Homo sapiens: one gene and its partners. The protein of the gene in region 5 purifies or fractionates together with the protein of the main gene of each other region. This does not show direct contact. Each region holds a gene or a part of one and is shown on either strand. Other genes may lie near its edges. The genes, in order: ECPAS, HEPHL1, LYG2, PKP1, KDELR2, EIPR1 and MACROH2A1.

The links.
Region 1: the proteins of KDELR2 (region 5) and ECPAS purify together in Homo sapiens (affinity purification with mass spectrometry; one large-scale study listed by BioGRID and IntAct). This does not show direct contact.
Region 2: the proteins of KDELR2 (region 5) and HEPHL1 purify together in Homo sapiens (affinity purification with mass spectrometry; one large-scale study listed by BioGRID and IntAct). This does not show direct contact.
Region 3: the proteins of KDELR2 (region 5) and LYG2 purify together in Homo sapiens (affinity purification with mass spectrometry; one large-scale study listed by BioGRID and IntAct). This does not show direct contact.
Region 4: the proteins of KDELR2 (region 5) and PKP1 purify together in Homo sapiens (affinity purification with mass spectrometry; one large-scale study listed by BioGRID and IntAct). This does not show direct contact.
Region 6: the proteins of KDELR2 (region 5) and EIPR1 purify together in Homo sapiens (affinity purification with mass spectrometry; one large-scale study listed by BioGRID and IntAct). This does not show direct contact.
Region 7: the proteins of KDELR2 (region 5) and MACROH2A1 purify together in Homo sapiens (affinity purification with mass spectrometry; one large-scale study listed by BioGRID and IntAct). This does not show direct contact.

The regions. Positions count from the first base shown.
Region 1 is NC_000009.12:111,369,253-111,373,462, reverse strand, and holds part of ECPAS (proteasome adapter and scaffold protein ECM29), read left to right. Parts: intron 1-56; coding exon 57-148; intron 149-226; coding exon 227-293; intron 294-842; coding exon 843-1,034; intron 1,035-1,633; coding exon 1,634-1,842; intron 1,843-2,697; coding exon 2,698-2,741; intron 2,742-2,835; coding exon 2,836-3,028; intron 3,029-4,210. UniProt on the Homo sapiens protein: Adapter/scaffolding protein that binds to the 26S proteasome, motor proteins and other compartment specific proteins. May couple the proteasome to different compartments including endosome, endoplasmic reticulum and centrosome.
Region 2 is NC_000011.10:94,107,988-94,111,874, reverse strand, and holds part of HEPHL1 (ferroxidase HEPHL1 precursor), read right to left. Parts: intron 973-3,887; coding exon 810-972; intron 339-809; coding exon 270-338; intron 184-269; coding exon 1-183. UniProt on the Homo sapiens protein: Is a copper-binding glycoprotein with ferroxidase activity. It oxidizes Fe(2+) to Fe(3+) without releasing radical oxygen species. May be involved in the regulation of intracellular iron content.
Region 3 is NC_000002.12:99,241,534-99,246,164, reverse strand, and holds the end of LYG2 (lysozyme g-like protein 2 precursor), read left to right. Parts: intron 1-706; coding exon 707-903; intron 904-2,027; coding exon 2,028-2,166; intron 2,167-3,682; coding exon 3,683-3,801; 3' UTR 3,802-3,919; downstream 3,920-4,631. UniProt on the Homo sapiens protein: May act as a potent antibacterial protein that may play a role in the innate immunity.
Region 4 is NC_000001.11:201,317,576-201,321,785, reverse strand, and holds part of PKP1 (plakophilin-1), read right to left. Parts: coding exon 4,007-4,210; intron 3,169-4,006; coding exon 2,991-3,168; intron 1,971-2,990; coding exon of another isoform or gene 1,908-1,970; intron 1,520-1,907; coding exon 1,405-1,519; intron 1-1,404. UniProt on the Homo sapiens protein: A component of desmosome cell-cell junctions which are required for positive regulation of cellular adhesion.
Region 5 is NC_000007.14:6,473,827-6,478,036, reverse strand, and holds part of KDELR2 (ER lumen protein-retaining receptor 2), read left to right. Parts: intron 1-3,752; coding exon 3,753-3,853; intron 3,854-4,210. UniProt on the Homo sapiens protein: Membrane receptor that binds the K-D-E-L sequence motif in the C-terminal part of endoplasmic reticulum resident proteins and maintains their localization in that compartment by participating to their vesicle-mediated recycling back from the Golgi.
Region 6 is NC_000002.12:3,367,689-3,371,898, reverse strand, and holds part of EIPR1 (EARP and GARP complex-interacting protein 1), read left to right. Parts: intron 1-4,210. UniProt on the Homo sapiens protein: Acts as a component of endosomal retrieval machinery that is involved in protein transport from early endosomes to either recycling endosomes or the trans-Golgi network.
Region 7 is NC_000005.10:135,336,642-135,340,526, reverse strand, and holds part of MACROH2A1 (core histone macro-H2A.1), read left to right. Parts: intron 1-951; exon of another isoform or gene 952-1,099; intron 1,100-2,513; exon of another isoform or gene 2,514-2,596; intron 2,597-3,885. UniProt on the Homo sapiens protein: Variant histone H2A which replaces conventional H2A in a subset of nucleosomes where it represses transcription. Nucleosomes wrap and compact DNA into chromatin, limiting DNA accessibility to the cellular machineries which require DNA as a template.

The DNA of each region.
Region 1 (4,210 bases), on a different chromosome or scaffold from region 5:
AGAGTGGAACATTTGGTCAACCAAGTATCAGATTTTTTTCTCTTTATTTCTGGTAGGTAAACTTATGAGTGCTTTGCTGAGTGGCCTGACAGATCGGAACAGTGTGATTCAGAAATCTTGTGCATTTGCTATGGGCCATTTAGTTCGGGTGAGTTAAATTTCTTGCTTAGTTAAATAAAACTCTTTGACAGTTATAAAGAAATACTTAGGATTGTTTCTTTTTCAGACCTCACGGGATAGCAGCACTGAAAAACTCCTGCAGAAGCTCAATGGGTGGTATATGGAGAAAGAAGGTACCTTTCTTTTTCTATTTTATGTCATTTTAAATTTAGATGTTAACAGCCCAGTAAAACAGTACAAATTAGGTCTTACCCTCCATGATTTTATGTGATTTGCTAGAAACATTTGTTTCTTTTCTTTTCTTTTTTTTTGAGATGGTGTCTGGCTTTGTCGCTGAGGTTGGAGTGCAGTGGTGCTATCTCAGCTCACTGCAACCTCAGCCTCCTGGGCTCAAGCGATTCTTGTGTCTCAGCCTCCTGAGTAGCTGGAACTACAGGCACGTGCCACCACGCCTGGTTAATTTTTGTATTTTTTGTATAGGTGGGGTTTCGCCATGTTGCCCAGGCTGGTCTTAAACTCCCGAGCTCAAGCTATCTGCTCACCTTGGCCTCTCAAAGTGCTGGGATTACAGGTGTAAGCCACCACAACCCAGCCTGCTAGAAACATTTCTAATTGATTTTACCTGTTTGTTTTGCTATTATATGAGTTGAACAATAGCCTGTTTAGATCAGTTACCCTTAAAAACAATAAATATCGTAAAGATTTTGGTTTCTCCTTTTCAGAACCTATCTACAAGACCTCTTGTGCTTTGACTATTCATGCTATTGGACGATACAGCCCTGATGTATTAAAGAATCATGCAAAAGAAGTCCTGCCTCTGGCATTTTTAGGCATGCATGAAATTGCTGATGAGGAGAAATCCGAAAAAGAAGAATGTAATTTATGGACCGAAGTGTGGCAGGAAAACGTACCTGGTTAGTAGTGTGGCCTGAGTTAAACCTGCTTCTTAGGAATCACAGCTAGAATTTTTTACTTGCATTCGTTATTCATAAACTCCTCTGAAGTTACTTTCCCAGGACCTTAATATGCATCCCATTTAGTTTTAAACCCATCCAAATTGCTCATCCCATTTAGTTTTGAACCCATCCAAATTGCTGAGTTCTCAAGGTTGGCACTCAGGATTTTTGTCTTTACTCATTCATCACTGCCCACATGAGAGAATATAAACCCTGTGAGCAAGGAGAGCTTTACATTTTTAATTAAGAGTGTGATTTTATGTGGCCTTAGAGTATTTTAGAGTAGTTTTCTAAATGTGTTTTTCACCTTGTCGCATATTAATTGATGATGCCCATTTGTGTGATACGTTCCTGTGGGCACCCAAGTTCGTAAAGTTCTACTATTGTGAGAATAAGTCACAACACCAACACACTTTCTCTCCCTTTGAGAGAGTGGTGTGTTTTAACAGTTGAGAGTCACTGCTTTTAGACTGTTGGTCACTGACTTTTTTTCAGGTTTAGAAAAATCAGTTAATTTTTCTTGTCACTTAAAAGTTGTTTTAATTTTGCTTTCCTAGGATCCTTTGGTGGCATTCGATTATACCTGCAGGAGTTAATTACTATTACCCAGAAGGCTTTGCAGTCTCAGTCCTGGAAAATGAAAGCCCAGGGTGCAATTGCCATGGCATCAATTGCAAAACAGACTAGCTCTCTAGTACCTCCATATCTCGGAATGATACTGACCGCATTGCTGCAAGGCCTGGCTGGAAGAACGTGGGCAGGAAAGGTAAAGGAACCATTCATACCCAGTTAAAGGGATTCTGACTTCATCTTTCATTTTGCATAATAGTAACGATCTGGTTTTGTGTAACTTTTCCAATGGATTATTTTTGTGAACTAGATTTCCTAGACAGTGGAAGCTTTGGGTAAACCTTGCCTGATTAACTGTGGTATTTCCTCTCAAACTGCAACCCGTGTGGCCTTGCATAATGGACAGTAATGCTGGAGATAGATACATTTTCCATATTCAGCCTTCCAAGTTACGTCTTAAACCAACTTGTCAGCATTTTGTACCTGTTGACCTCATGAACAGATCAGGATTGGGCATAGAAAGATCAGGATTGGGCATATGTGAAATAGAGTAGCAAGGTAGCCTGCCTCTAAACCTGGGGCTGAAGATGCCCATCTCTGGGACCTATGAATTAGTAACAGTTATTTTTTTACACAAGAGCTTTAGTAGGATTCTTAACAGTGAACACTCAGTGGGGAACATGAGATTGTGGTAACCTAATGATCTTTATGTTGTAAAGGTCAATAGTGGCCCATGCAGGAATGAAGTAGTACCGGACTGGGAGTCAGACATCATTCCAATTCTGTGGTTGACACTGTTTTCTGTGAGACCTGGGTCGAATCAGTTCTTTAGGCTTCTATGAAATGGAGGTGAAGATAATTATCCTACATCCATGGTTTGGAGTAAAACTTGGTGGATGTGCTTAAAATTATGCATTAAAGATAAGGTGACTGTTGTTAATTTTTGTTGTCATAGTTATCAAAAATTCCTAAGGTAATTGTAATCATGGTTTAGACAGTGTAAATGACATGTTTGGGCTTAATAGTATTTCCTCATCTTTCAACCCCTTAGGAGGAGCTATTGAAAGCCATTGCCTGTGTGGTGACAGCTTGCAGGTAAATGTTCTTTCAATGAAGATGCCATTTCTTAAACTGGACCCGAAAACTGCAGCCTTTATTAACTTCTGATGCTTTTGTATGGACCCTGTAGTGCAGAGCTGGAAAAGTCTGTGCCCAATCAACCCAGCACAAATGAAATTCTTCAAGCTGTTCTGAAGGAATGTAGCAAAGAGAATGTCAAATACAAGATTGTAGCAATCAGCTGTGCAGCTGATATCTTGAAGGCCACCAAAGAGGACAGATTCCAGGAGTTCTCTAACATTGTCATACCTCTCATCAAGAAGGTAATACCACCTGTATCCTCAGTTCTGGTTTATACTTTAAAAAGAAAAAGTTAAAAAATTGTTTTCCCCTATGTCCTGATTATTAGGATTAGTTTAGCTGCAAGTAGCAGAGAAATTCCAAAATACGGCCTTAAACAAGATAGTCAATGCTATGTTTCTCACAAAGCGTTGGGAGCATCACAAAGTGTTCAGGTATTCCGTCTCTTTACAGCTCTGAACTCTGCCATTTCTAGGGTGTGGTCATCATCCTCATGGTCCACAGTGTGTTTGTGTTCTAGGCAGGAATGCAGAGGAGATGAAGCAAGGATGAAGGATACAGTGGGCATGCCATGTCTCTCTTGAGGAGAGTTCCTGGGCACCGCTAGATGGCACTTTGACTTATAGCCATCCTGTTGGTCAGTACTTAGCCACACCTGGCAGCAGACTGAGTCTTCATTCTGGGTGTCCATTTGCCCTCCATGGGAGAAGGGGAGAGTGGATTTGGTAGTGAATGAACAGTTTATGTCATAATAAGCTTTGCCTTGGCTAATAAGCTAAGCCACCCCAGCCATCCTAGAGTAAAGGCAAGAAGCTCAGTGTGCCATGTGAATTGCCTCTGCCATATAGTGGAGGATTTGGGTCAAAAAAAGACTCAAGTTTCATGTGGAAAATGGAATACTCATTTTTAAAAGTTGGGCACTGGTCCCCCCCCCAAAAAAAAGGGTGTGGTTTCCCTGTTTATTTGTGAAACATGAAATATTTTAAGTAACATTCTTATTTCTTATTGCTCCTAAATTGCAGTTGTTTTCTTTCAGTAATAAGGCTATTTAAATAATTTCCATTACAAACATAGTGATAGCATATGGATTTGGGAGACTTGTGTTTTAAGTTGATTACATCACTAGCAAGCTGGACCAGTTGCTTCTCTTAGCCTCTGTTTCTCTATCAAGAAAGAGTTTGGATTTAGATCATTACTGAGTTTCTTCCATCTTTAAAATCTGATTCTAATGCAAGTCTTTTCATGTTATGCTCAAAAGACTACATATGCAGTATTTTTTAGCTTTTGTTTACAGATGCCTGTAAAGTATTGCCTAAATTTATTAGAGATACAGTATTCTGGTTATAAATTCTTGTTGTAAATAGGGAAACTTATGGTAGAGAATTTATCATTTAACTCTTGGTTAATATCTCCTGCCTTGGTTG
Region 2 (3,887 bases), on a different chromosome or scaffold from region 5:
GAGCACAGGACTGGACTTGCTGGTAATCTGTCTGCTTCATTGCAGAGCAGAGTCTGAGGGAGAGAATCACCGTGGTGATTAGAAGGAGGAGTCCAATGATGAAAAGGATGACCAAGGCTGCCTTGGCTCCTGTTGGACCCAGATTCTTGCCAAAGAAATAGAGCTGCTCTTTGCCAGGTCGTTCTGTGAAAAAGATAAACTTGTCAGGCCCCTGACATTTTTGAGGGGTGAAATGTTGACTCATTTACATGGGGAGAGGGTATCATTACCGTTAGATGGCACCGTGGCTGGGTGAGATGCCACTCCAGGAGATGTGGTGGAGTAAGGAATCCTGTTGTCTGCACAAAGAAAACAAGTTCATTGTTTTATTAACAACAGAAGGGGATTCTTTTCATGACACTAGTCATTTCATTTCACCAGCGAGGACTTATCCCATCAGTATCTGCCAATCATTTCTGGATTCTTACTGTGCTACTTCATTCCCATGTACATGCTTTCCTGCCCCAGCTGTCTTTCCCACTTCTGCTCACCCACTGAGTCTATCTGGAGCATCATGGCCTCTGTGAAACTTTGGCTCATATCCTCCAACTGTTACCCATTCACTCCTACTGCTGCTATTAAGCCCTGTACTCTGCATTCTGCTACGGCACATAGCATACTTGATTATAGTTACATATTTACATATATGTCTCTCTTACTTGACTCTGAGCTTGTTGAGGGCTATATCTGGGTTTTTGTCATGCCTCCTGTTTTGGGGGTCTACAGGAAGCTCGGTGCCATCATCTGGCATCACTGACAGACAACCGTACCTATGTTACGAAGGACCGTGTAGGTTGTCTCCATGCCAGCATGGATGTGGTCAGACACATGACAGTGTAGCAGCCATGTCCCTGGGTGATCTGCAAACAGTTCAATGGTTTGGAATGTCCCAGGAAAGAGATCATACACATCTTCTCGGTAAGATTTATCTATCTGCAAAAACGTTTTAAAAAACAACAGCTAGTAGCCTTCTTTGCTCAGAACAGCAAGAACAGAAAGAAGAGCAAAAACAAATAAAACCCACAGTAAGCAAAAGGAAGGACATAAGAAAGAGCAGGAATCAAGAATAGAAGTACAATAGAGATAAGTCAAAGAAATCTAAAACTGATTCTTTGAACAGATCAATAAAATCAATAAATTCTGTAGTAGCCAGCTTCCATGATGGCCCACAATGATCCCCACCTCCTGGTATTCATAACCTTTGTGGTTCCTACCTACATTGTATAAGGGTTGGTATGCGAAATCAATAGCATGTGGAAGAAGTGCTGGCATTCCAATTCCAAGATTAGGTTATCATTACTTCTGTGTTAGATACTCTGTCACCCTCTTCTCTTGGATTACTCACTGGAGGAAGCCAGTTTTCATGTCTTATCCACATGATCAGGAGCTGAACCCTCTAGTTAACAACCATATCAGTAAGTTTGGAAGTGGATCCTCCAGCTCCAGTCAAACCTTTGAAAACTGCAGCTCCAGTCGACATCTTGATTGCCTCCTCATGAAAGATTCTGAATCAACCAACTAGTTAAACTAATCCCAAATTCCTGATCCAAGAATTACTCTAAGTTTAGAGTAATTTGTTATGCAGCAATAGATAACTAATACAAATCTCTGGACAGACTAACCAAGGGAAAAGGGAAAAGGACACATTAAAAATACTGAGAATGAAAGTGAGGACATCACTAAAATCTTACAAATATTAAAAAGGAAATACTGGACAAACACCTCTTATCCAAAAATTGTACAACTTAGATGGTATGAACAAATCCCTTAAAAGACACAAACTCCTGAAGATTACTCAAGAATACATTGATAACCTGGATAGCACTATATCTATTAAAGAAACTGTAATTGCTTCAAGATATTCCAACAAATTAAACTCCAGATGGCTTTATTGGCAAATTCTACCAAACATTTAATGGAGAAATAATACCAATTGTAAACAAACTGTTCTGGAAAATAGAAGAGGAAAGAACAGTTCCAACTCATTTTATGAGGCCAGCATTACTGTGATACCAAAACTAAACAAATGCTTTGTGAGGAAAAAAAGCTACAATCAATACTCCTCATGAACATAGATACCATCATCCATAACAAAATACTAGCAAATCAATTCCACAAAAAGGAATAATACATCATGACCAAGTAAGGTTTATCCTGGGAATGAAAAAGTGTTTAAAAACTCCACAATCAATAAATGTAATTCAGCAACAGATTAAAGAAGAAAAAGCATCTGATCATCTCAATAGATGCAGAAAAACCATTTGATAGAATTTAACATTTGTTGATGATCAAAACTCTGAGCAAATTTAGAAGGAAATTTCCTCAACCTCATAATGGGATCCACAAAAAAGCTGCAGCTAACTTTATATTCAAAGGTGAATGACTAAATGCTCCCCTTGTAAGATTAAGAACAAACTGAGGATGTCCACTTTCACCACTCATATTCAAAATTGCACTACAGGTCCTAGCCATTGCAGTAAGACAAAAGAAATAAAAGACATACAGATTGAAAATAAATGAAGCCATGTCTATTCACAGACAACATGATTGTCTGCATAGAAAATCCCCCTAAAATCTATAGGAAAACTATTGGAACTAAAGTGAGTTTAGCAAAGATGCAGGATGCAAGGTCAACATGCAAATATCAATTATATTTCTAAATATTGGCAATAAACAACTATAAATCAAAATAAAAACACTATCATTTACACTATTACCAAAGCCTTTTATATACTTAGTTATAAATAAATAAAACAAAGTATATGCAAGATCTCTATATTGAAAACTACAAAATGCTGATGAAAGAAATCAAAGAAGAGCTAAACGATAGATATACCATGTTCATGGATTGGAAGCCTCAATATTGTTATGTCAGTTCTGTCCAACCCATTGTATAGCTTCAGTGCAATACCAATCAAAATCCCAACAGGATTTTAAAAATCAAAATCAACAAATTATTTCTAAAATTTATCTGGGAAGGCAAACATCTAGAATAGCTAAAACAATCACCATCTGATTTTGAGACTTACTATAATACTAAAGTAATCAAAACATTGTGGCATTCAAGAAAGGGCAGAGTATAAACCAGTGTAACAGAAGAGACCGCCCAGACATAGACCCACATATATGTGGTCAATATGATTTTCACAAAAGTAAAGAGTCAATTCTGTGGGAAAAAAAGATGATCTTTTCAATGAGTGGTGATGGAACATTTGGACATATATATGAAAAAAAAATGAACCTTATTTCATATCTTGAACCACATATGAAAATTAAAATGTATCAGAGCCCTAAATCTAAAACTATACCACTTCTAAAAGAAAACAGAGACCTTTTTTGGGACCTTCAGTAAGGCCAAAATTTTTTATACATGACACCAAAAGTATGATCTATAAAAGAGAAAAAAGAAAAATTGTACTTCATTTTACTTCATCAAAAATTAAGAACTTCTATTTGAAAGCTGTTAAGAGAATGAAAAGATAAGCCACAAACTGGAAGCAAATATTTGTGAGTCACATCACTGAAAAAGGATTTGTATCCAGAATATATAAAGCCCTCAAACTCTACAATAAGGAAACAAGTAACCCAATTTTTTTAAATGGGCTTACAATTTGGACACTTCACCAAAGATTTACAGATGACAGATGGTAAACAAACACATGAAAAGATGCTCAATATCATTAGCCACTGGGAAAATGTAAATGAAAAACAATGAGATACCACTATATCCCCTCCCCAAGGAGGGAATGCCTAAGGGAAAAAAATGAAATAAAAACTAAAAATACCAACTGCATATGTGGATGTGCAACATATGGAGTTCTCGTATATTTCCTTGGAAATGCAAAATG
Region 3 (4,631 bases), on a different chromosome or scaffold from region 5:
ACTCCTAGTACAACAGGCTTCCCAGTGCACTAGTGTGGCAGAATTTTTTTTGTGTGTATGACAGAGTCTTGCTTTGTCACCCAGGCTGGAGTGCGATGGCATGATCTCGGCTCACTACAATCTCCACCTCCCAGGTTCAAGCGATTCTCCTGCCTCAGTCTCCTGAGTAGCTGGGGTTACAGGTGCCTGCCACCAAGTCCAGCTAATTTTTGTATTTTTAGTAGAGATGGGGTTTCACCATGTTGGCCAGGCTAGTCTTGAGCTCCTGACCTCAAGTGATCTGTCCACCTCGGCCTCCCAAAGTGCTGGGATTACAGGCATGAGCAATTTGAAGGAGAAACAGAGCAGAAGCGACACCTGTTGGGGGTTGTGGATCTGTTTGTTTCTGCAGTCAGAGATCAAAAGGATGTCTTAGAATGGTTGTCCCAAGTCATTAGCAGTGATCAGAGGCTGTGGCTAACTTAGCAAATTTTTAAAAATGGTTTTCTTCTGAAGTAGAAGAAACAGTTTCTTTTCTTTTTTTAACTTTAAATTCTTTTTTTTTTTTTTTTTAATTAGAGATGGGCTCTCACTATGATGCCCAGGCTGGTTTCGAACTCCTCCTGGGTTCAAGCAATCCTCCTGTTTCAGCCTCCTGTGTAGCAGGAACTGACTTCAGGCACACACTACCATGCCCGGAAAAACAGTTTCTTTTCTATTGACGTAGGGATCCGTGGTTCTGAAATGTTTGCTGAGATGGATTTGAGGGCCATAAAACCTTACCAGACTCTGATCAAAGAAGTCGGGCAGAGACATTGCGTGGACCCTGCTGTCATCGCAGCCATCATCTCCAGGGAAAGCCATGGCGGATCTGTCCTGCAAGACGGCTGGGACCACAGGGGACTTAAATTTGGCTTGATGCAGGTATTTAGCTAGAAACTTTCTATCAGCCCCACTGCATCCCTCCTCACAGAAGCTCAACCTGAACTAGAAATCCATTTGCAGTGCTTCCAAGCCCCAAAATACCCTGGCATCTGGCTACAGGTACTCCAGCATAATTTTTTTTTTTTTTTTGAGATGGAGTTTCATTCTTGTTACCCAGGCTGGAGTGCAATGGCGTGATCTCGGCTCACTGCAACCTCCACTCCCGGGTTCAAGTGATTCTCCTCCCTCAGCCTCCTGAGTAGCTGGGATTACAGGCACACGCCACCATGCCCAGCTAATTTTTTGTATTTTTAGTAGAGACGGGATTTCACCTTGTTGGCCAGGCTGGTCTTGAACTCCTGACCTCAGGTGATCCACCCACCTCAGTCTCCCAAAGTGCTGGGATTACAAGCTTGAGCCACTGTGCCCGGCCACTCCAGCATAATTTGATCTGGGATTTCTGTAACACATCTTTTTATTTTATTCAAGGCTTATTCATTATTAGATATATTTTAAAAAGTATTTTAGGAGTTTCATAACTACCATTCTGCAATAAATAATATGTAATACACTAAAACTGAGAAAATCTTATAAATAGCATTATTGTTACAGGTGTCCTCTTGGGGTTCATGAAGTAGTAAATTTCATCCATGTGGATCAAAACATGGTATAACTGTGCCCTACTTGAAACAACTTGTTCCTTTGGGTAAACTGGAGGAAGGGGATCCAAATTATCTGGATATTTGCTTCCAGGCTCGATTTTAAATTGTCTGTAGAAATACAGACTTCTGGCCTTCCCAGTTAGAAACAAATTTTTATCTGAATTAGCTGGATAATTATTTATTACTATAAATGTGTAGACTTTGGGTGTTATTTGTTTCAAAACAACTTAAATTTTTTTTTTGTATATTAGAATGTTTAGCTAAAACTATACCATGTCCATTTCTCCCAAACCTTACTTTGTTTCTCTGACTCTCATCTATATGAAAGAAAGAACAATAGAATTGACTCTTTGGGGATAAAGGCCGGTATCTATGACTTGAATACCAGGAGAGGAAATTAGGAATGGCAGAAAAAATGTGTTACCTCATCCAGATGCTGACTTTATTATCTGAATTTTCTAGCTTGATAAACAAACGTACCACCCTGTCGGTGCCTGGGATAGCAAAGAGCACCTTTCACAGGCTACTGGGATTCTAACAGAGAGAATTAAGGCAATCCAGAAAAAATTCCCCACGTGGAGTGTTGCTCAGCACCTCAAAGGTAGGCTGTATTCTGAGTACTTTGTTTAAATGAGCAATGAATGAGACCACTGAAGGCCAGTGTGACCCGAGACTCCCTGGGAGCATTTCCACGGGGTCAGCAGTGGCCCTGGGAGGAGCTGTCTAGAGGCTGCATTTGCATTCCCTGAACCACTGAGTTACTTTGAGAGGTCCTCCATCCTCAACCTCCATTTCCTCTTCTGCAGAATGTTGGGGTTCTTATTCATTGCTTACTGAGCTATTGAGTGATACCTTGAAACATAGTGAGACCCTGTCTCTACAAAAAAAAAAAAAAAAAAAAAAAAAGCTGGGCATGGTGACACACAGTCCCAGCTACTCAGGAGGCTAAGCCAGGAGGATTGCTTGTGCCTGGGAGGTTAAGGCTGCAGTGAGCATTGATTACATCACTGCACTCCAGCCTGGGAGACAGAGTGAGACCCCATCTCTCAAAAAAAAATTTATCTATCTATCTATCTATCTATCTATCTATCTATCTATCTATCTATCTGTTTGCCTACCTCTCATAGGTTTTTTCCTGTTATAAGAAACTGTCAACAACTTTCCAAATTGTCTGAACAATGTTACTCTGTGAGTATTTTCGGGACTTCAGGTGCTATATATCCAAGTGGAAATCTCTGCTTGGCTGACCACAGGCCCCCTCAAGTTCAGCATCTCCCAGATGGAATTAACTCACTAACTTCCCACTATAAATTTGCTCTTTCTTCTGCATTTTACATGTCTTGGAGGCACCATAATATAGCCAGTCATCCCAGCCTGAAAACCAGATTGCTTTCTTAGGCTCTCTGGTTCCTTCTCTCTTCACACCCAACCACATCAATTCCTATTAGGTTTGCCTCCTATTGGCCAATGTTATGTCCTCCACACTCTAACGGCCTTAATCAGAACAGTTTCTAGTCTCTACTTCAAGGTCCTTGAAGGCAGGGATCAGGACCAGGCATCTTCCTCTCTGGATATCAGAGCAGAGCACAATTATGTTAAACACATACATAACTACTAGAGATAAAATTCTAGGGTAAAATAGCACACACATGCATATGTACACATACCCAAAGAAATAAGTGTGTCTTGGGTACCTTGCAGTCAGTGTGGCACCTCTCCTGGCACATAGTAGGTGCTTGAAAACATTTCCTGAATGAATAAATGAGTGAGTGAATAGATGAGTGAATTATTGAATAAATGAGAGAATGTTACAAGCATTTTCAGCAGAGGATGTACTGGGAGTCTAGTTCTGCCAGGCCTGGATTACATAAAAAAGCAAATCTGATTTTTGCAACAAGAAAAACCAAAGACTTTGGAAAAAGAGAAAGAAAGCAATCTGGAATTTTCCCAGTGATTCTTGGGATAGCACGTCCTTTCAGAAAGGGAGGGAGAGGGAGGAGGATTTGGGACTGCCTGCTTTGGAAGATTTGCCTGGAAAGCTAACATCTTGGCAATGCTCATTGCTTATTTCTGTTGAAAGTTAATATTTGAGCCTAATTCTCTGTGTTTCATTTCAGGTGGTCTCTCAGCTTTTAAGTCAGGAATTGAAGCGATTGCCACCCCATCGGACATAGACAATGACTTCGTCAATGATATCATTGCTCGAGCTAAGTTCTATAAAAGACAAAGCTTCTAGGCAAAGCTCTGTGGGTGGGCCAGGTTGGCAGAGTGCTCAGATGGCCGCCTTTGAGAGTTTTACGTGAATGTGTTGTATACAACACTGGCAAAGAAATGATTAAAATCATGAAAGAAAATTCATTTCCCAATTTTCTGAATGAAAATAAGCATTGAAAAAAGGAAAGAAAAATAAAAGAAATCCATCCAGTTCACAATATGGTTCCTAGGAAACGGACATAGACATATATATAATTACTTTGCAGTAAATGTGAATATCATGGCAAATGGTCCCTAGGTATTCCAGCCAGGCTTCATTTTAGCCTGTGATTCCAATGCCCACCTACTCCCTGTCTACCAGAATTGCTAACAAGTTAAGTAAGCCTTACCCGAGCCTTTGTCTTTTTTCCAGTATCTGCCCAGAGCCCTCAGGCTTTGCTTATGAGAAGTTCCTGACTCGTAAGCCAGCCAATCCATGGGACAATGGAAGAAATAGGGATGGAATTCTAGCTTCATGGGAAACTGAGAGCCAACTGAGGTGAAGCTGTCATTCAAGTTAGATACACCAAGTCCTTCAAACCCACAGCAACCTCCTGTGTTTTCTTTTGTCTGTGAAGATCCAGGGACTGGCTTTTCTTATTTTCAGCAGTTGCTGCCACACGCTTTCTTTCACGGGGTCCATCCCTCACAAAACATGGCTGAAGATAAGCATGTAGGACCCAAATCAATTATGGTTCTTTGGTTGCAAGCAAAAGTAACCACTTATAGAAATTTTAAGCATTAAAAAGAAATTACTGGAAGGCTAACAGAACAAACTAAGAAGGTCAAGGAGATGAAGAGACACCAGGCAAC
Region 4 (4,210 bases), on a different chromosome or scaffold from region 5:
TTTCCTGGCTGCATGAACTTGACTGGCCTCACTTCTCTGGGCCTCAGCTATCTCAAATGTAAAATGAGACTACAATTGTCCATTTCACTAGGCTATTTGGAAGATGATACAGAGAAAGCACTTATCACAGGGCCTAGTGTGTGGTAGGACTGCTATGGACAACATGCCAATGGGCAGACTGGGATATTGAAGAATGTGTCTTTTTTTTTTTCCAGAACAAACTCCTCCAGAAGAAGCCCCATGCCTCTAGATTCCAAAGCCATCTAGTGCCCCCATCATTCTTTCTTCCTGGGGCCAGTCCTTAGCTGTCAATGTCAGCGGTGCTAAGTCCACACAAAACACAGCAACACCTGGAGCCCAGGGCTTCATCATGGCAGCTGGGCTCAGATCTTTGTCAATCTCCTTTGGCAAACCTCCAAAGGACTAGGGTTTGGGGGCAGCAGATTTACCCTCCTAATGATGTTTGGCCCTTGCTGGGGTCTAAGGGAATCTGACTTCCAGGGCTTGGGGTTACACAGGTGTTGGAGATATTGCACACAGAGCAGAAAAGCATCTTGCCCTTTGGAAGCAGGCTGAGCAGCCCAGTGACAAGGCTCTCCTCTGTGGCCCTGCTGTTGCTTCCAGTGGAGGGAGCAGGAGATAAAATCCCTCCTTACGGCAACTGTGCTGAGAACCCAGGTGCTGTGATGTCAGCCCGTTCCCTGGCGATCTGGAGCCTGCTGGGCCTCACTATCTCCTGAGCCACTGTCCTGCCATGGTGGGAACATCTCAGCCTTCTGTTTATCTGCCCTCCACAACTTTTTTTCTTTCTGTTTGTCTGTGCTGTGTGTCCAGAAGTCCAGAGAGGGCAGCAAGATGACTGCCAATGGCTTTTCTGGGAGGCAGTGGGAAGATAGCAGTGGCAGAAGGAGCCTCATCTCAGGGGGGACACTAAGCCCTGGGGGCACCAGTATGGATTCCTCTGGGCTGTGGGGCAGGGCTCGGGGTCACAGGACAGGCCTCAGCACCACCAATGAAGCACAGCCAGCAGATGCTCGCTGGGAGCTTCCTCTGTGCCAGGCCCTCTTCGTGTTTTGCTTATTAACTAATCAAGCCTTTCAGACAACCCTTGAGGTTGATATGATTATGACCCTTTCCATTAGAGTGAAGAGTGAACCGGGAAACAGAGAGATTAGGGAAGCAGCTGCATCTACTCCACTTCTAAGTGAGGGAGAGTGGATTTGCATGGGCACGCTGTCCCCAGAGCCCACTCCTGTAGCCACCACTGAGCCCTGCATCCAGATGCCTCTTCTACCACCCCTGAGTCTGTGCTCCTGTCTTGTCACTGGGCCAGGCCTCAAAGGCACCCAGAAAATGTAGGGGGCTGGGCCTAGGGGTCAGGGTGCCACCAGGGGATGCACTCACCTTGTCGTCACAGCGGCTGGCCGCTACACAGTTCTGGACATAGGCCATGAGGGAATCAATGAGCCCTGAGTAGTTACGCATGGTCTGGCGGCCTGCATCGGCCGAGCTCAGGTTCCTGGGGGAGAGAAGAGGGTGGAAGAGGGCAGAGAAAGGGGGAAGAGAGAACGGGGAAGGTGGGGACAAGAGAGTGTGGTGGGGGACAGGCAGGAGAGAGAACAGGCAGGAGAGGGGAGGGCAGAGAGGAGACGACGGGGTGGAGATTGGAAGTTGTGGTAGAAGGAAGGAAGGAGAAGAGGAAAGGGAGGAAAGGAATGAAGAGAGGAAAAGATGAAAACGGAAGGAAAGAGAAACCATTTAGCCAATTCCGCCTGGCCCTGGCTGAGGCTGAAATGAGGTCTCATTTGCACTCAGTTCTTCTCCTCCTTCACTCTGCCCAGTAACTTTATAACTGGCAATGGCTCCATGTGGCAACGGTCCCTCCGCAGCTGCATCCCAAGGCTCACACCCTGCTACTAGTGGCCCTTTGCGGAACAAGAGCCAGAAGCTCCCGCATGCCCAGTCTCTTTCTGTGGGACAGGAAGAAGCCCTGTTGATGCTGGATCAGAAGTGGATCTGGGGGTGGCCGGGCTGGGCACCAGAAGCTCCCTCTCCACCCAAGCTGTGTTCTGCCCCCAGCAGTAGGCTCACTCCCAAGCAATGTGGGCTCATCCCCAAGCAATGTGGGCTCATCAGCCTGGTGCAGGTGGGGTGTGGCTGCTGTTGCTACCAGTAGCACATCAACCCCATAAAACTCTTAATTATCCTCACTTTTCATCTCCCCAGCCTCTCTGCTTCCTGGAGGCTGCTACCGGAGGCTGGCAGGGAGAAACACAAGTTGAGACACAGAGGCACATGCCAGCTGCACCCACCACTCTGGGGGGATTCTCAGGAGTTGGGAAAGACAAATCCCATTAAAGCAAGACAAACCCCATTAAAGACCCTAAAAGGGATCCTGCTCCAGGGTTCCAAGCCCTGTACCAGCCGCCCCTCCACACCCACCCATTTCGCCAGCTTGTAAACCACTGCTTCTAGAACAAGCCCTCCCACCAGCCCCACAGGGGCTTTGCCACACCCTGGTATGGAACTTAGGCAACTTTGGGTGAAGCAGTGCCATCTTCATGCCAATGAACATGGCAAATGGTTTTAACACCACAGCTGGGAAGTGACTCATTAGCAACCCATCGGTAGACTTTTGTCTAAAAGAACACTCTTCAAGATGATAGCACAAGAAATGCATTTTTTTTCATGGGGTGGAGGAGGGAAATGGTTGAACCAGTTTGGATATTCAGATCTAGGCATTTTCAAGCTCAGATTTCTGACTAATGTCCGCTGCATTCTCTCAAAGGGGGTGGTAGGGTCCTGGGCCTTATCCAGTTCCAGGGAAGTTAGGAAGGCCTGAGTCCCTGTGTCTTGGAGCCTGCCCATAAGAGGGAGTGCCGGGTTGTCTGTTATGTTCTATGCACCGGCTGAATGTTGGCTGAGATGGGGCTGCCTGGGGAAGGGCCCAAGGCTGGGACAAAAAGACCCCATGTATCCTCTTCTCTCACCTCAAGCAGCCTGTGGCATTGAAGAAGACCTCAGGGTCCACCACTTCCCGGGACATGTTGCTATTGCCATCGCACCAGCCAGAGAAGGGAATGATGACGCGGTCGGCCAGAACAGGCAGGGCGTCGGCAATGAGTTCCTCCTTCAGCTCGTCAGTGGAAGACAGGTTCCAGAGCAGCCCTGGGGGTCAGAGACCATCAACCCAATTTGTGCCAGGCTCAGGATGCCCTAGGGACCGAGGTAACAGCCCCAGCCTGGACTCTGGCAAATGGGCCCTACTGAAATGTCGCTTTCCAGGTAGCCCTGGTCTGTAGAACCTATTGTCTGTCTGTGTCATGAGGCTATTTCTCAATGCCCCAACCAGACTGAAGGTTCTTTGCAGGCAGGGAACATCTCAGAGTTCTCTGTCAAGGCCAAAATTATGCATGTGGAAAGTGATCAAAAAACGTTTGATTGATCAGTGGTTTTTAGTATAAATTTTAGCACTTGGAGTCTTCTAACGCTGTCTCTTTTCCATCTGAAAGTTATGCCAGAAATACTTATCAGTCATTACTCTGTACATGGTCTGATCTTCCCAGCCCAATTCTAGGTCTTCACGGTGACCTCTTCCTCTTGTGCCCCCCACCTTGAGTGCCTACCATATTTCTTGAACACAGGGTAGGTGCTTAAGGCCTGTTAACCCCTTCTCCCCTCAGTCTTACTCTCTTTCCATCACCTGGGAATCCCAGGGCTTGTGGAATATGGATCTTGCCTGGACATCAGCCTTCCTCCTTTTGCTCTTTAACCTCAAAAAGATGGTGACCCCTTGTGTGTGCACACCACCCAAGGTCACCCTCTGGACACCCCTAATTGGGCCAAGGCCAGTGTCACTAAACTCTCAGGATATTAGCCCTGGGCCAAATCTGCACAGCTGTGTCTTGGCCCAGCCTGGAGAGACAGGCTTGCACCCCAGCCTGGGGCCATAGCCAGTGGCCTTGCACAGCCCTCAGGCTGGCTCTCGGTGGCCGTGTTGTCCTACCAGTCAGCTGCTTCTGGATCTCGGCGTTCCCGGTTCTCCTCAGGAGGCTGACTGCCTCGCGGATCCCATTCTGCCTCCGGGTCTCCAGCTTGTTGGTGGTGCTCCTGAACACCAGGTTGCGCAGGGCCCCTGCCGCGGCCTGCTGGACGTTCTGGTTGGGGCTGCGGAGGAGGTCCACCAGCTTGCAGATGCCTCCCAGCTGAT
Region 5 (4,210 bases):
TCTAGGAGAAATTTGACAATATCAAATTTTAAAATGTTCATGTCTTATTTTTGGTTTATGTGTTTTAATTTGCATTATTTGGGGTTACGGATTAAAATTTTTTAATTGATACATTATGATTGGATCTATTTATGGGGTACAGTTTGATGTTTCAATACATGTGTATGTTGTATAGTCTAATCTGGGTAGTTATTTCCGTCACCTCATGTGTTTATCATTTCTTCATTCGAAAACTTCTAACTATTTTGTAATATATAATACCTCATTGGGAAGATTGCTTGAGCCTAGGAGGTCAAGGCTGGAAGCTATGATTGCACCAGTCTACTCCAGCCTGGGCTACAGAGAGAGACCCCATCTCGAAAACAAAACAGAAAACAAAAGACATTTAACCTGGCCCAGTAGGATAAGACAAGAATGATGTTGTTTAATGACTGATTTCCATTTAACAAGTTGTACTCCTTAATATAGATGTTTGGTGTATTTGGTAAGGGGATATCAGTTTCAGAAACATTTACAAAAGTGAGTATTCTGGGAGATCTTATTACCTGGTAACCTTAGCATGCTTTGATCTCAAAGTGGAGAGAAGCCGACTAGGAGCTGCTCTGGTTTAATAGCAGGTATTCTACTCCCAACCCCTCCAGGAGATTCTTGCCCCACCCCCTTCTGTCTTCAGCTAGGATTCCCATTTTCCTATGAAGACAGGACAGTTTTGTTGTTTTAAAGGAAGAAGCTGCTACTTCCTAATCAGGATCTCAGGCTGGGGAAGAACAGTGTGGGACCACGTTAGCATCCGCAGATTTCCAGCAAGGCTGTCCTGCGTGGACGCTACTCCATGGACCGGCTTCAAACCACACACTGCCCTGTGCGCACCTGGGGCTCTCTCACCCTCTAGCTAGTAGTTAATTAGGGCAGAGCCCTATTTACAGTCACAGAGACACAGTATGACCTGGACATTCTTCAGAAGTGTTCTCCCAAAATACCACAAAATGAGAATTTGACCCCATGACATGAAGATAAAATGAATCCCATTTTCTTTTGTCCATTTATTCATTCAGCAAATATTTTCTGAGTCCTGCTGTGTGTCAGGGCCCAGTGTCCCATGCAGGGAATACAAGATGGAATAAGGCATGACCCCAGCCTTTAAAGATCTTGGTACTGAGTGAGGTTTTTGGGGAGAGGAGAGGCAGGAACCACATCATCACAGTGTATTTTTATAAGTACTGTAATTGGAGCTAGGGCAGCAGCTGGCATGAAGCAGTTCCCCTTATGTGCTTGCTGAATGAATCAACAGTCCTGAGGGAGGGTATCTTCAGAGATGACATCCCAGAGGAGGTGGGATATGAGCTGGGTCCCCACGGGGGCTGGTAAAGACAATATGATGGTCCCTGGTTTTCAGTATAGGAATGCTGGGAATGAGGACACAATTTCAAATCTGCCTGGCTTCCAAAGTTCTGTTAGAGTAAAACCCTTTCCCACAAAATTCACCTACTTGTATCCTGTATGTTTATATTTAAAATATTGGAAAGAACCATATAGGAAATAAGCTGGAAATTGATTTCTCAAGGCTTCAACAAACACCAGGTATGGTCTGACTGCTCCCTGTTCTTTCTTCTTCCCCCTCTGAAACCTCCCGGTTTCTTGGTTAGCAGCAGCCTTGTCATTTCCCCTTTGGAACATTGGTCTCTGTAGGAAGAAATCAGTTATCCGTTACGGGGAAAAGACTAAGAGCAGATTCACTGTCCGTGTCTCCTCCTTTGGCCCTTTGGTTTCTATTGATGGATCTGGAAGGGTGGCATCAACATTTTTTTCCATTTCTATTTAGATGTGTATGTGAATAGGCTGAGACTACAGTTATTCATCTGAGAAAGTAACATTCTTACATTCAGGTTTTCAGTTTCAGCAAGCTGCAAAATGATTGTTCATAAAATATTGAAAAACAACATGTAATACAAATATTAGCCAGGTGTGGTGGTGCACCCACCTGTAGTCCCAGCTACTCAGGAGGCTGAGGTGGGAGGATCACCTCAGCCCAGGGAGGTCAAAGGTGCAGTGGGCTGTACTTGTGCCACCGCACTCCAGCCTGGGCAACAGAGTGAGACCCAGTCTCAAAAAAAGAAAAGAAAAATAATGTGCTTTTCACGTTCCAGAGGAGTGTTGTGAATGATTTGGGTGAAGTGACTTTTCTGTTAAATTCATACTTACTAAAATGTGTAGTGGTGTGAAGTATGCATTATAGATGAGGGTGGGTGGGTTCTGACATTTAGTCAGCCTTCAGTTTCTTTAATGCATTTGCTCAGTCTCCAGCATCTGAAACCCATAGTTTGCGTCCTTTGTCACATAAATATTTGGCCAAATATAGATGTCAGAAAAGCTGTGTGCACACCACATAAATGTCCAGCCTTCCTGGCTGAGTGTGGCTGTGCCATGCAGTGCTCTGGAGGTGGGTTGGTGGTTGGAAGTGGAAACACAGTTTCAAGGCTTTAAAAAAGACAGCTGCTTTTGAAGACCAGCTGTAGTTGTGGGTTCATACCTTCATGTTGTCCTAGCATTCAGGAACATTTTTATACAAATACAATGGAATTTCTATTTTATTGTAATTAATTTATTTTTTGAGACAGGGTCTTGCTCTGTCACCCAGGCTAGAGTGCAGGGATGTGACCACAGCTCACTCAGCCTCAGCCTCCTGGAGTCACGCAATCCTCCCACCTCAACCTCCCATGTAGCTGGGACCACAGGTGTGTGCCACCTTGCCTGGCTATCACTTTTCTATTTTTCGTAGAGATGGAGTCTGGTCTCAAACTCCTGGGCTCAAGCGATTCTCCCGCCTTAGCCCCCCTATATGTGGAGATTATAGGCATGACCACTATGCCTAACTGAGAGGGAAGCTTTAAAAATCTTAACATATCCAAGTAATTGCCGCTCTTAGCAAAGAAGTCACCATGGGATGCGATGCCATTATTCCAGCGGGAGTTCCTGCCCAACTCTTACCTGAGTCGGTGCTTCTCATCTACTCCTCATCCCCCTTAATGACAGTAGACTCCATCTCCGTTCTCAAAAGATTTCTCACCATGGAGATACTGTTTTACCATACAAAGAAGGGACCAGGCGACATGGCTCATACCTGTAATGCCAACGCTTTGGGAAGCTGGGCCCAGGAGTTCAAGACCAGTGTGGGCAACATGGTGAACAAAAAATTTGTTTAAAAATTAGCTGGGTGTGGTAGTTCACACCTCTAGTCCCACCTACTCTGGAGGCCGAGGTGGGAAGATTGCTGAAGCCCAGGAGGTCAAGGCTACAGTGAGCTTGATCGTGCCTCTGCACTCCAGCCTGGGCAGCAGAGGGAGACCCTGTCTCAGGGGAAAACAAAAAAGAAAAATCTGAATGTAAGAGACAAGTTATAACACTAAATGACAGCAGAATTATTGAGAAATTTGTTCCTACTTAAGGTGATATATTTGAGAAGTAAAAGGTTCGTTTGAATGATACACATCCTGGCATAATAAAGCCCCTTTCCTGTGGTCGCCCTTTATAGTGAGACAGAAAAGCCTGTTAGAGCCTCCCAAAAGGAGCATGTTTGGGAATGGGAAGGGATAGAAAAACTACAACTGCTCTTGTTCATTCAGAGCCATCCCTAGACCTGGGCCTTGACCCCACGCACCCCTCCTTCCCTGTCTGCACTCCCTGCACAGTGTGATCCACAGGAATCCCAAAGCTCTTCAGGCCCTTCTAATACTTCCCTTCTGTTTCTCTAGGTATTTCTGGGAAAAGCCAGCTTCTGTTTGCACTGGTCTTCACAACTCGTTACCTGGATCTTTTTACTTCATTTATTTCATTGTATAACACATCTATGAAGGTATGGTATGCCATCCACAGGAATGTATTTCATCTACAGTGCACAGGTCTATGGACACTTAATTTATGTCAGCTGTGTATTTTTAATTAAAATGCTCCAAAAATAATGTCTTAATATGCTGTTCTTGACTTTAAAACTTTCAGACCACCTTGTATATATAACTGGGACTAAACGAGCTATCAGTAAGCATACATTTTTGGTTTCAAAACAGTAGTTAATTAAAATACTTTGAAGTTAGAACTTTTTTATTTTAGGTTCCTTAAGTATGATAAATCTAAAGCTCTTGATAACTCTGTAAGTAAGAGCGGTAACTATTATATTTTCAAGCCGTGGGAAATTACAGAGTCCCCAGAGAAA
Region 6 (4,210 bases), on a different chromosome or scaffold from region 5:
CTGTAGATATCTATTAGGTCCGCTTGGTGCAGAGCTGAGTTCAATTCCTGGGTATCCTTTTTAACTTTCTGTGTCGTTGATCTGTCTAATGTTGACAGTGGGGTGTTAAAGTCTCCCATTATTATTGTGTGGGAGTCTAAGTCTCTTTGTAGGTCACTCAGGACTTACTTTATGAATCTGGGTGCTCCTGTATTGGGTGCATATATATTTAGGATAGTTAGCTCTTGTTGTTGAATTGATCCCTTTACCCTTAAGTAATGGGCTTCTTTGTCTCTTTTGATCTTTGTTGGTTTAAAGTGTGTTTTATCAGAGACTAGGATTGCAACCCCTGCCTTTTTTTGTTTTCCATTTGCTTGGTAGATCTTCCTCCATCCTTTTATTTTGAGCCTATGTGTGTCTCTGCACGTGAGATGGGCTTCCTGAATACAGCACACTGATGGGTCTTGACTCTTTATCCAATTTGCCAGTCTGTGTCTTTTAATTGGAGCATTTAGTGCATTTACATTTAAGGTTAATATTATGTGTGAATTTGATCCTGTCATGCTGTTAGCTGGTTATTTTGCTTGTTAGTTGATGCAGTTTCTTCCTAATGTCGATGGTCTTTACATTTTGGCATGAGTTTGCAGCGGCTGGTACGGTTATGCCTTTCCATGTTTAGTGCTTCCTTCAGGAGCTCTTTTAGGGCAGGCCTGGTGGTGGCAAAACCTCTCAGCATTTGCTTGTCTGTAAAGTATTTTATTTCTCCTTCACTTATGAAGCTTAATTTGGCTGGATATGAAATTCTGGGTTGAAAATTATTTTCTTTAAGAATGTTGAATATTGGCCCCTACTCTCTCCTGGCTTGTAGAGTTTCTGCCGAGAGATCCGCTGTTAGTCTGATGGGCTTCCCTTTGTGGGTAACCCGACCTTTCTCTCTGGCTGCGCTTAACATTTTTTCCTTCATTTCAACTTTGGTGAATCTGACAATTATGTGTCTTGGAGTTGCTCTTCTCGAGGAGTATCTTTGTGGCATTCTCTGTATTTCCTGAATCTGAATGTTGGCTTGCCTTGCTAGATTGGGGAAGTTCTCCTGGATAATATCCTGCAGAGTGTTTTCCAACTTGGTTCCATTCTCCCCATCACTTTCAGGTACACCAATCAGGTGCAGATTTGGTCTTTTCACATAGTCCCATATTTCTTGGAGGCTTTGTTCATTTCTTTTTATTCTTTTTTCTCTAAACTTCCCTTCTCGCTTCATTTCATTCATTTCATCTTCCATCACTGATACCCTTTCTTCCAGTTGATCGCATCGGCTCCTGAGGCTTCTGCATTCTTCACATAGTTCTCGAGCCTTGGCTTTCAGCTCCATCAGCTCCTTTAAGCACTTCTCTGTATTGGTTATTCTAGTTATACATTCGTCTAAATTTTTTTCAAAGTTTTCAACTTCTTTGCCTTTGGTTTGAATTTCCTCCTGTAGCTCGGAGTAGTTTGATCGTCTGAAGCCTTCTTCTCTCAACTCGTCAAAGTCATTCTCCGTCCAGCTTTGTTCCGTTGCTGGTGAGGGACTGCGTTCCTTTGGAGGAGGAGAAGCGCTCTGCTTTTTAGAGTTTCCAGTTTTTCTGCTCTGTTTTTTCCCCATCTTTGTGGTTTTATCTACTTTTGGTCTTTGATGATGATGATGTACAGATGGGTTTTTGGTTGGATGTCCTTTCTGTTTGTTAGTTTTCCTTCTAACAGACAGGACCCTCAGCTGCAGGTCTGTTGGAGTTTGCTAGAGGTCCACTCCAGACCCTGTTTGCCTGGGTATCAGCAGCGGTGTCTGCAGAACCGCGGATTTTCGTGATCCGCGAATGTTGCTGTATGATCGTTCCTCTGGAAGTTTTGTCTCAGAGGAGTACCCGGCCGTGTGAGGTGTCAGTCTGCCCCTACGGGGGGGGTGCCTCCCAGTTAGGCTGCTCGGGGGTCAGGGGTCAAGGACCCACTTGAGGAGGCAGTCTGCCCGTTCTCAGATCTCCAGCTGCGTGCTGGGAGAACCACTGCTCTCTTCAAAGCTGTCAGACAGGGACATTTAAGTCTGCAGAGGTTACTGCTGTCTTTTTGTTTGTCTGTGCCCTGCCCCCAGAGGTGGAGCCTACAGAGGCAGGCAGGCCTCCTTGAGCTGTGGTGCGCTCCACCCAGTTCGAGCTTCCCGGCTGCTTTGTTTACCTAAGCAATCCTGGGCAATGGCGGGCGCCCCTCCCCCAGCCTCGCTGCCACCTTGCAGTTTGATCTCAGACTGCTGTGCTAGCAATCAGCGAGACTCCGTGGGCATAGGACCCTCCGAGCCAGGTGTGGGATATAATCTCCTGGTGCGCTGTTTCCTAAGCCCGTCGGAAAAGCGCAGTATTTGGGTGGGAGTGGCTCAATTTTCCAGGTGTTGTCTGTCACCCCTTTCCTTGACCAGGAAAGGGAACTCCCTGACCCCTTGCACTTCCCGAGTGAGGCAATGCCTCGCCCTGCTTCGGCTTGCGCACGGTTCGCTGCACCCACTGACCTGCGCCCACTGTCTGGCACTCCCTAGTGAGATGAACCCGGTACCTCATATGGAAATGCAGAAATCACCCGTCTTCTGCGTTGCTCACGCTGGGAGCTCTAGACCGGAGCTGTTCCTAGTCGGCCATCTTGGCTCCTCCCTGAAATATTATTTTCTGAGGTTTGAAAAATGAATGAAATTGATTCTCTAAGGTAGTCAAATATATTATTGGATTTTCTTCTTTATCTTAAAAGAAGTAGCTGACTTTTGCTACTTGGATTTTATCGGATAGTATCATGGACCAAGACTTTCTTAAGTTTGAAGAACCATCATTGCAGTAAACAAGAAAACTGAAAAGGATAGTGTTTTTTTTTGTTTGTTTGTCAGTGACATTCAAATCCCATGGAGAACACTTTACATGAAAGGATAGAGATCTGATCGTTGACCGCTGAGTGAAGGTAATGACACTTGAAAGATAAAGGGCAGTACTGCAACTGCAAATAAAAGACCAACACGGAGGGTCGTTAAGATCGCAAAATGCTGAGCAAATTCATGGTAATGATTCTGGATTTTTTTATAATTATATTTGAAATGCATGAAATTTCAAATGATATTTGAAATGCTTTTGCACACTTTTAGTTTACTGCTCAGTAGAAATCCATTTTCTCAATATGAGTTTAATGAATACTTGTCAGTTAACACAACAGTAGTTCTTTGTGACTATCTCAAAGTGCATACAAACAGTATGACTTCTCTCCTGCAATCATGTTTCTTTGAACTTTTGACATTAATAGATCTTCTTTGTTGTGTGGGTCAAATCTCCATGTGGCAAACTTGCCTTGTGATGGGAACAGTGAACCTCTAGGCAGTGGTGGCTCTGCCCATGTGTAGGTCTGGGGGCAGGCATGTGACTAAGATGGACCAGCGGCAAGCAGGGCCTGCAGGTGTGGGCAGAGTGAGGGCTACATCTGCCAACTCCTATTTGAGCCCACTGCTGCCAAGTGAGCTGGGCCAGACCAGAAAGGACGGTCGGGGTGGGAAGGTGGGTGACAATGATGACTTGGGCTTGTTTCAAGTTGCTTTCCCTTCGGTTTACCACCAAAACCAGGAAGCAAGCAGGGCAGGTTGTAAGCCACACAAGGATATGCGTGCCTCCTTTCTGTTCTGGGAGGTTCTCCTGGAGTCCTGAGATCAGTGCAGTCAGGTCAGAGGGGCAAAGAGACTGTGGGCTTTTGGCTTTTTGTGCCATCAGTCTGAGGGACAGATGGACCAGGCCAGCGCTTCAGGGTCTGCCTGTTGCCAAGTGAGGAAAGACTTTTGAAATGGAAGATGGAGATTAAATTTTCTTTTCTTTTTTCTTTTTTTGAGACAGAGTCGCTCTGTCACCCGGGCTGGAGTGCAGTGGCGCGATCTCAACTCACTGCAAGCTCCGCCTCCCGGGTTCACGCCATTCTCCTGCCTCAGCCTCCTGAGTAGCTGGGTCTACAGGCGCCTGCCACCGCGCCTGGCTAATTTTTTGTATTTTTAGAGAGGGGGTTTCAGGGTGTTAGCCAGGATGGTCTCGATCTCCTGACCTTGTGATCCGTCTGCCTTGGCCTCCCAAAGTGCTGGGATTACAGGTGTGAGCCCCCGCACCCAGCCGAGAGATTAAGTTTTCAAATGCCTTTTTATATCCATGGAATTGATAATTTGGTTTTAGGATTTTTCTCTTTTGATCTC
Region 7 (3,885 bases), on a different chromosome or scaffold from region 5:
CACGATATTTATGGATACCCCCACTCCCTCAGCTCTGTTTCACATTAGGGGTGACCCCTCTCCAGAGGGGTAGTACATAGGGAATACTAGTTTGGGGCTTTGATTAAACTTTCCTTAGATTTATAAGCTTAAAAGGAAAAGCTGGTTTATTTTTTTCAAGCTACTATTTATGGGTATGTGTTGAGCCCCAGGCGCGGTGCTAAACCCTTTATCTGCATTATCTCACAGCAACCCTACAAGGTGAACAGCATTATTCCTTTCAAGGGCAAAGAAACTGAAGCATAGAGGGGTTAAGTAAATCATCTGAGGTCACTCAACTTGTACTTGGTAGAGTGAGAATTTGATCAGAAGCCCTTCGCTTCAGAGCTGTTAGGCTCATGGAACCCCTGCCTCCCATCTCCATTGGTCAGCCAGACCCCAGGTCCCACCACCTCATCCCACCATAGGACTGCCCCCTGCCTGCGTACTCTCTGTGCATAAAACACTACCTGGGAACTCCCTGACCTGCCCAAGTATAGCCATCAGCCTCTTTCCCCTCCTAAGCATTGGCCTCAGAGGTGAGATAAAAGGACAGAAACTCAAGAGACCTTTGAATGGGGGAGAATTTTTCATTTACCCAAAGCCCGGGGGCCTGGAGTGGGAGGCCACTTTGGGGCTGCCCCATCCCCTCTCTAGCTGCAGGGGGCACAGCTCAGGGGAGTGGTGGCCCCATCACCATCGCTTCTGAATGTTCTCCCTCCTGTATACCATTGCTCTCGGCTCAGGATCCTGATGACTTGGATCAAAGTGGCCTGTGGCTGGGGCAACTTCAACCTGGCAATTACTAAAAAATGGTAAAGGCCTAAGAGCAGCCCACAGCACAGTGCGAGGGGGACCTAATCTTAGCAGAAGAATGTCTATACCCTAAGTGACAGACAAAGAATACCAGAATCCACCTCTACTCCTCCCCAGCCGTCAATTGCAAGCTCGCAATCTGTCTGCTCCAGAAAAATCTCCCTGGACTCCCAGGATACAGCCTCTCCTGCTGTGACTCTCTGAGGTCCCTAATGAGCTCCTAGCCTGGATTTGCTGCATACCTGCCTGGCCCCAGCCCTGGAAGGTGAGCTCACTGAGAGCAGGGGTGCTTAGTGAAGTCCCACTCAAGGAGAGGGCTGAGAAGAGCTGGGATGTGGTCCTTGGTGCACCTAGAGTCCCTGCGTGTCCAGACAGGACCGTGGGACAAGCATCCAATGCGTACACCCCCCAGCCATTACTGAGGAGGCTGACCCAAGAGGGCATCTTGCACTGGCCCTGGGAAACTGAGGTCCAGGACTCTTGGGAAAGGCAAAGGGCATTACAGACACAACTGGAGTGAATTTAGGGAAAGCTCAGATGTCTCTTTAGTCTGCTTAAGGTCCTAGCCCTATGGTGTAGGAAACTCTTGACTCCAGAGGAACTTAAGGAACATGCCATAAACACAACCCACAGGCCAGGTCAGGGGCTGAAGAGAGAGTGGAAACAACAAACAGTGCACGCATCTCCCAGGTGGGGCTGATGGTGGCCGCAGTACTGGCAGCCTCATCATCACCACCATTGTCATCACTGCACAGACCCCTGAAACACCTAATTTCTAGTGGAGGAAATTAATGCTTAGAGAGGTTAACACCCTGGCCCAAAGCAGCTGGGATTCAAACCCAATTCTGACTCTAGAGTGGAAGCCCTTAGTCCCTCTTGCTCTGCAACATCTGATCTGAAAGATAGGCAGCACAGCTGTAGGACAGAGTGGCTGGCACAGAGGCCAGGCCAGGCAGGAATGGCTATTCAGAGGGGCCGTGGTTATGCAAGTAGCAAGTGAACCCAGCTGAGAAGCCAAAGATGCAACACCAGTGGGCATGACTGCTCCTGAAAGCAGTCAGTACTGCACTGGGGAGCCTCTATGTAGCCCCTGCTGCTGCATGCCCACGGTCACGGCCAGCAGCTCTCTGGGGTCTGAGGCCAACATTGTTAGCACCGTGTAACTGCAACGACAACAGCAGTTACCCAGTCACAGCTATCCCAGGGACGAGGGTGGAAGGGGCAGTTTTCTACTGCATGAGCCTTTTAAAAGACCCTTCAAAGCCACCTACTTTATAGACAGCTCCTCTTAACTGAAGACTCTCTGTGCCATGCCCCGGTGCTTTGCATTTTCTTGTCCCAGACTCTGATTCCATTTCACAGGATGGGGAAACAAGGCACCGAAGTGGGACCACAACTCAAATCCTGTGTGACTCCGGGAAATCCTGAGCTCTTAACCACTCTGCTTCTCTACCCTGGAGGGAGTAGGGCTGTCAGGCCACCCAAGCCTCAGAGGCAGACCTGGGTCTGACCTGCCTCAGCTGCTGCATGTGCCACCGCTGCCTCTGTCTGGAGGCTGCAGGGCTGTGTGTGGAGTGCTCTTGCAGGGCATCCACCTACACATTCCATTTTGCTACAAGCATTCTAACTGGCAGCAAGACATTTTGAGGCCCACCAGAAAACGTTAGGAAAGCCGTTACCTCCGCCATTCCTTCCTGGCAGCCTGCGCAGTCCAGAGCAGCCACAGTCCCATAGCAGGGTTTCTTCCTTAGGCTGTAGCTTCCTAGGACAGAGGGATGGATTTGTCAACAAAGGGTTGTCCTGGAAACAAATCCAGATTCATGTTCACCCACCAACAACCCTGAAATGCTTGCAAGGCCAGGGACATTCCGGTGGAACCGTCTGCTCTCTATTAACGGGACGGTAGGCAGGTGTGGGCACTGCAAGTCTAAAACATTTGATACTGACCTCTCTCCCCCACTTGCAGATCCTCAACATCTGGGTCCACCCTGCCAGCTTGGATTATAAAGTCCATGCTGGCTATTTGTAGAACAGCAGTTCTCAAAAGCTGCTAGACCTGCTGAATCAAACTGTTGTGTTTTGACAAGCTCTCCAGAATTCTGATGCAGGCTAAAGCTTGAGAACTATTGATGTAGAGGAATAGAAAAGAATATTTCCTCACTGAAAGTCACATACTCTTTTGTAAGGGTCCAAGGCAGAGGCAAGGAAAGCCTCAGGAGGGGTCTGTGTCAGAAAGCACTGGTCACAGGCAGGAGTGACTGGCACACTTTTGGTGTGTTCCAGGGAGACCCCTTGGGACCTCCCAGTCAGCATGGCATGGCATGGGCATGGGCCAGGCTACACTGTGTCTGCATCATACCACATCTCACCCAGCTTGTGTGGGATGTAGCTAACCGTTGTTGGAGACAGCTGCCTGGGCATGCAGCCCGGCTGCAGCTACAGAAGCCCTGCCCCAGGGCTAGCTCAGCTAGGCAGAACATCGGGCCACCTGACAACTGCTGTTTGCAGTAGCTCCACAGGCCCTCAGCCCAGCCCAGCTCCCTGTGCACGTGTGAGGCTGAGACAGGCAAGAGGGCACCTCACTGTAGGGACCTTGGAGCTGGCAGAGCATGGTCTTGGGATTCACATGCAAAATGCAACTTCTCACAGCTCCTCTCAGCACCCTGCAGCCCCCGTTGATCCAGGTCACATCCACAGACTGGGCTCTGCCTGCTCCAGAAGCCCTTGGCCCCTAAGTACAGGCTGCAACAGGACCGAGGATCCCAGCCCACAGTTAGAAGCAGCCTGAGCTGCTGGAAAGATGCCCCCCAAAAATGGAAGATTGAGTTTTTATCTCCTCAAGCAATTCTCAACGTGGCTCATTCCAGATAACCTGTCCTCTGTGCTCCTTGACTCCTGTGAATATAGTCAGGGCAGCTCTGCCTGGTGTGGGCCAAGATTTCAGATCTGCAAACAGCACTGGTGCCAGAGGAATGACCTGCCCACTCTCAGCAGAGCCCTTTTCTTTCACTATACATGCCGCCCTCCATCCTGGCCCACCTGTTAGTCTAG